2 linked regions of the Homo sapiens genome follow. The protein of the gene in region 1 purifies or fractionates together with the protein of each later gene. This does not show direct contact. Each region holds a gene or a part of one and is shown on either strand. Other genes may lie near its edges. The genes, in order: DEFB1 and NMT2.

The links.
Region 2: the proteins of DEFB1 (region 1) and NMT2 purify together in Homo sapiens (affinity purification with mass spectrometry; 2 studies listed by BioGRID and IntAct, with this or other methods). This does not show direct contact.

Annotation. Positions count from the first base shown.
Region 1 is NC_000008.11:6,869,945-6,872,690, reverse strand, and holds the end of DEFB1 (beta-defensin 1 preproprotein), read left to right. Parts: intron 1-1,864; coding exon 1,865-2,010; 3' UTR 2,011-2,099; downstream 2,100-2,746. UniProt on the Homo sapiens protein: Has bactericidal activity. May act as a ligand for C-C chemokine receptor CCR6. Positively regulates the sperm motility and bactericidal activity in a CCR6-dependent manner.
Region 2 is NC_000010.11:15,158,661-15,162,483, reverse strand, and holds part of NMT2 (glycylpeptide N-tetradecanoyltransferase 2), read left to right. Parts: intron 1-2,447; exon of another isoform or gene 2,448-2,651; intron 2,652-3,823.

The sequences.
Region 1 (2,746 bases):
CAAATGAGTGGCCTTGGCCCAAGATGCTTCCCTGAGTACTGGGATGGGAGAACCAGAGTGCCTCTCAATTCCCTTCCATCTCCACAGCAACACAAAAAAACTCTTCTTTTCTCATTCTCCTCAATGCCTGGTTTCCGGGCCCTTCCCAAACCTCTTCATTCTCCTGTGGATGTGTTTAAGTTGGCCAATAGACTTCCCAACGTTTGAAGCCTGGTATCAATACAGAGTACCTTCTATTGAAATGAAGTTGAATAAAACGTTCTGCAGTGGTAAAAAGATTCTATATCTGCTGTTCAATGAATGCAGCACCCACTAGCCACATAGTGCTCGTGAGCACTTGCAATGCGGCTAGGGTGATTTCAATTAACCTAAAAGAGAACAGCCACAGGGAGCATGTGGCTGCCATATTGGATGGTGCTGCTTTGAGAACAAAATGAGAGAAATGAAGCCTCTATTTACCTTGGTTGGCGGAACACATTGAAGGGACTCTGTATTGATACCAGGCTTCAAACTTTGGGAAGTGTACTGGCCAACTTAAACACATCCACAGGAGAATGAAGAGGTTTGGGAAGGGACCAGAAACCAGGCATTGAGGACAATGAGAAGAGTTTTTCAAAAGTGGAATTACTGCAAAAAGTGGAAAAATAGCCTTTGGATGGAAGTTACTGATGAGACAATTTCCATCGGTGTGAAAGCCATCTTTCCAACAGAGATCTGCAACATGAGAATGTACTGTCTCCTAGGGTAGCGATGGCCTCTTGTATTAGTCCGCTCAGGCTACCAGATTTATCGTTTAAACTGCCCATAAACAGACCAGGCAGTTTAAACAACAGAAATTTATTTCCTCGCAGTCCTGGAGGCAGGAAGTCTGCGATCAAGGTGGAAGCAGGGTTGGCTTCTTCTCAGGTGTCTGTCCTTGGCTGGTAGATGACCGCCGCCTCCCTGGGTCCTCACATGGTCTTTCCTCTGTGTGTGTCTGTCCCAATCTCTTCTTATAAGGATGCAAGTCTTATGGATCAGAGCACACCCCAATGACCGTGTTTAACTTGAATCACCTCTTTAAAGTTTCTCTCTCCAAATACAATCACCTTCTGAGGCACTGTTAGGGCTTCGACACAGGAATTCTTTTCCTAGGGGATTCAGTTCAGTCCAAAACGCCTACCAGTGGAGACTTGCAACATGGCGGCCTGCTGGTCCCTCGCCAGGAATATCACAGGCGACTGTTCCCTGTTGCATGGAATAGAAGGCTATTCCAGAGTACTGTCTCTATTTATCAGATCTGGGATACTGGGAGAAGGGCAAAATAAAGTCCAAGTAGAAAAAAAAACTATGAAAGTTTTAGAGAGTAACCATAATTTCAGCCCGATGTGAAACGATCCTAGATTTCAGCTGAAATAGTGATGTGGGAAGTGAGGGGGCCGGGATTCAAGGCAGAGGGAACAGCGTAACTGAAGGCATGGAAGGAGGGAAGTGTAGGCTGTGTTTGAAGAGTGGCAGCTGCTTCCACATTTCTAAAACACAGGATGTGATTTTGGGGTGTGTTGAGACAAGGCAGAAAACTTGTTTGGAAAAATAACTTGAATTCCCTGCACATTTAAAATCTCTCAGCAGAAGAAAACCCCACTCAGAACCCCACTGCTCATTCCTTGGCTTGTATTTGGCCACAGCTGGCATAGCCCCAGACTGAGTAAGCTGTTCAGACACCTCATTTCATGAGTAGCCCCAAAGATCAATCATGGGCCAATTTCTTGGAAGAGAAGACTCTCCGGTGTTTTGCAGTTATTTGTTCTGCTTTCGCGAGATGTTCTCAAATCGTTGCAGCTACAAGCCATGAGTCTGAAGTGTTTGTGTTCCCTCCTTACAGGTGGTAACTTTCTCACAGGCCTTGGCCACAGATCTGATCATTACAATTGCGTCAGCAGTGGAGGGCAATGTCTCTATTCTGCCTGCCCGATCTTTACCAAAATTCAAGGCACCTGTTACAGAGGGAAGGCCAAGTGCTGCAAGTGAGCTGGGAGTGACCAGAAGAAATGACGCAGAAGTGAAATGAACTTTTTATAAGCATTCTTTTAATAAAGGAAAATTGCTTTTGAAGTATACCTCCTTTGGGCCAAAATGAATCTTGTGTCTCAATTGGAAGAGGTAAAGAAGTAGGGGGTTAGGGTGCATGGGTTGGAACGTGAGACAGGTCGAACCACAAAGCCTGCCTGGAAAAGGGGAGTGATGTCCTAGGCTTCAGTGATGTCACCTCCACTTTGTTTGATCCACAAACCAACAGGTGACTGATTTTGGTTTTTTTTTTTTTGGTTTTTTTTTTTTTTTTTTTTTTTTGAGCTGGTGTTTCACTCTTGTCGCCCAGGCTGAAGTGCAGTGGCACAATCTCGGCTCACTGCAACCTCTGCCTCCCAAGCCCAAGCAGTTCTCCTGCCTCAGCCTCCCGACTAGCTCGGATTACAGGTGCCGGCCACCATACCTGGCTAATTTTTGGGGTTTGTTTTTGTTTTTAGTAAAGACAGGGTTTCACCATGTTGACCAGGCTGGTCTCGAACTCCTGACCACAGGTGATCCACCCGCCTTGGCCTCCCAAAATGCCAAAGTGCTGGGATTACAGGCATGAGCCACGACGCCGGCCCCAACACATGACTGATTCTCAAGTGTCCACATAATTCAGAGGTCTCAGCAGTCTGCTCAGTGAAATAGTCCTTTGGCAGGACCCAGAACTTCCATTTTTTCTCCTTTCTGGTCT
Region 2 (3,823 bases), on another chromosome or scaffold:
CTGAATGTTTTTATTTTATTTGAATTAATTTAAATTTAAATAGCTCCATGTGACTAGTGGCTATCATACTGGACAGCTCAGATCATATTCAGTCTTTGAATTTTGTTTATAAGCTTTCTTGGTACTCAAAAATTTCTGTATTTTATTTCCTGTCTTTGGTAGAATATGTCTAGTTTTCATTCTTTTTTTCTTCTGTGGATTATCTGTACACTTTTTTTTTTTTTTTTTTTTTGAGACAAGGTCTCACTCTGTCATCTGGGCTGGAGTGCAGTGGCACAATCTCAGCTCACTACAGCCTTGACCTCCTGGACTCAAGTGATCCTCCCACCTCAGCCTCTCAAGTAGCTAGGACTACAGGCACATGCCACCACACCTGGCTAATTTTTGTATTTTTGTAGAGACAGGGTCTCACTATGTTGTCTAGGCTGGTCTCGAACTCCTGAACTCAAGCAGTTCACCCACCTCCGTCTCCCAAAGTGTTGGGACTACAGGCGTGAGCCACCGTGCCCGGCGATCTGTACATTTTGAACAAGTATGTTTTCATCTATATTTCTTTATCCATATCAAAAAATTAACCACTATTTAAAATATTCTACCATCTCACAAGAAAAATCATGTAGGATATTTTGACTTCTTTTCATTTCCTAGGTTTAATTGAAATAACCTGGAATTGTAATTCTTTTATTTTTGCCCTTGTGTCACTAGAGACTTTTTTCTTAACTATTACATGTTTCACATTCCTGTTAACAAAAACATTTTAGACTTTCCTGACAGCTTTATTGTTTTTATGGGTTTCCATCGTTCTTTATAAAACACATCCTCCCGGCCAGGCGTGGTGGCTCGCACCTGTAATCCCAGCACTTTGGGAGGCCGGGGTGGGCGGATCACCTGAGGTCAGGAGTTCGAGACCAGCCTGGACAACATGGTGAAACCCCATCTCTACTAAAAATACAAAAAAACATTAGCCAGGTGTGGTGGCGGGCGTATGTAATCTCAGCTACTCGGGAGGCTGAGGCAGGCAGGAGAATCACTTGAACCCAGGAGGTGGAGGTTGCAGTGAGTCGAGATTGCACCATTGCACTCCAGCCTGGGCGACAGAGCAAGACTCTGTCTCAAAAAAATAAAAGTAAAAAATAAAACACATCCTGTCTTTTTCTTCTTTAACAGCATTCTCACATGATTTTTTTTCTTAGAGTGCGTGGATGATGTATTTTGAGTTCTTGCATGTCTGAAAATGCCATTCTTTTCCCCTCCCACATAATACATAGCCTGGGTGTGCATGTGACTCTATGATAACAATCGTTTTCCTTGAAACTCCATAAACGTTTTAATATCTTCCAGTATTTACTGGTACAGATGTTGTTTTCTTTGTGTTTTTTTTTTTTTTTTTTTTTTTTTTTTTGATTTTTGAGGCAGAGTCTCGCTCTGTCACCCAGGCCAGGCTGGTCTCGAACTCCTGACCTTGACCTCAGGTGATCCACCTGACTCGGTTCCCCAAAGTGCTGGGACTACAGGTGTGAGCCACTGTGCCTGGCCAGATGCTGTTTTCTCTGCTTCTCTGTCTTTTATAGGTAATCTTATTCTTTTTGTCTGTTTTAACTTGTTTTCAGTCTAGAAGCTTCTGGCATTTTTTCCCTGTTGTTCTATTACCAAAGGGTTTCCATGTCCTTTCACATGCTGGGATCGCCTGTCCTTTATTTTTTATTTTTTGCAATGGAGTCTTACTCTGTTGCCCAGGCTGGAGTGCAGTGTCGTCATCTTTGCTCACTGCAACGTCCACCTCCCAGGTTCAAGCGATTCTCCTGCCTCAGCCTCCCAAGTAGGCAGGATTATAGACGCACACTACCATGCCTAGCTAATTTTTGTATTTTTAGTAGAGACGGGGTTTCACCACGTTGGCCGGCTGGTCTCGAACTCCTGACCTCAAGGAATCTCCCCACCTCAGCCTCCCAAAGTGCTGGGATTACAGGTGTGAGCCACTGCACCTGGCACCTTTCCTTTACTATCTAAACAAAATGGCCTGAGCTGATACATGTTCATGGGGGTTTCTTGGGGTCTTAAGTTTTCATGGTCCTCAGGCACACCCACACTGCAGCCAACTTGCCCCATCACCGGGCTCCTTGTGCCTGTGTGTCCTTAGGGTGCTCTTTTTCTTCAACATTTGACCTTGGGTGGAACACGGTTATCTTCAGTTCTGTGTCTCTCACCACCCTCCTCCCAGGAATCACTAAAATCCAGCTATTGTGCACAGCATTTGCTGAAGCGTTTGTGGCTAATGGGGAGGGAGGGAGGTCTGATTACAGAGTAGCGCAGAAAACAACTTTGAATTCAGTGTCAGACATCATTGTTCACCAAGAGGAATTTGTTACTGCTCACGCCTTTCTGTGGGTCATGGCTTCCTCTGCTTCTGAGAGTGTCTCCTGATCTTTCTTCTCCTCTTCTCTAAGTTCAAGGTCAGCCCAAATGTCCTTTCTTTCATGAAGCCTTCCGCAGCCACTATGACCAAAGGCGCTGACCCCTGCCGGAAGCCCTGTAGCTCTTAGTGAGTGTATCTTTCCCGTGACATCTTTCCCAGTTGCTCTCACCTCATCTCCCCAGCCCTCTGCTCGGGAAGACCCTCATTCTCCTGCCCCAAGCTGTGGCTCCTAGAGGTGAGTTCCTTGTCCACAATCACAAATGGGAGATGTGGGTCTTTGCGTCTGTTGCTTAATGTGTGTGTAGCATCTACCAACCAGCTAGAGTAAAAGGTTTTATTTTGCTGGGCGCAGTGGCTCACGCCTGTAATCCCAGCACTTTGGGAGGCCGAGGCGGGTGGATCACCTGAGGTCAGTAGTTCGAGAGCAGCCTGGGCTACATGGTGAAACCCCATCTCTACTGAAAATACAAAAATCAGTCTGGCACGATGGCGGGCACCTGTAATCCCAGCTAATCGGGAGGCTGAGGCAGAATTGCTTGAACCCGAGAGATGGAGATCACTTTATAAGCACATACTGCAGTGAGCCGAGATTGTGCCACTGTACTCCAGTGAGCCTGGGCGACAGTGAGACTCTGTCTCAATAAATAAATAAATAAATAAATAAATAAATATTTTAAGGAGGTTTTATTTAAATATACAATAGGTTATCTGAAAATAAAGTATGGCTGGACTTTATTAGAATTAAACATTATAGAAAGTCAAGTACCCAAGGTCCATCTGTCTTTCTAACCTCTCTCCCTTTCTGTCTCAGTCTCTGTCAACTAGACTGCCCCAAGCATCTGTTCCTTAGTTCAGATTCTCCAGAAAGGATCTCACTGGTTTCTGGCCAAGAAAGGGATTATCCAGGCATGATCCAGTCCACTGTGATGGAGAAGGGAAAGGGAGGGGTAGAAGAGAATTGTGTGGTACAACATGGCCACTGAGGGCCACACCTTTGGTGAGACCTGTGGGCAAAGGGAGTTTTCAGGGAAGGACATAGTGAACAATGCTGGCACCTTGCTGGGACTGAATTGTATCTCCCTGCCAATTCATATGTTGAAGCCTAAATCCCCAACGTGATGGTGTCTGGAGGTGGCACCTTTGGGGGGTAAATAGCTTACAAGGGTGGAGTCCCCATGAATCGGATCAGTGTATGCTTATAAAGAGATAGAGTCCAGTGCTTTGTTGCTCTGCCAAGAATAAGGCCCTCACCAAAAACCTGACCCTGCTGGCACCCTGATCTTGGTGGACTTCCAGCCTCCAGAACTGTAAGAAATAAATGTCTTTTCTTTAAGTAATCAGTCTATCGTATTCTGTAATAGCAGGCTGAACTAAGACACACCTCAAAACATGTTTGCAGAACACAGC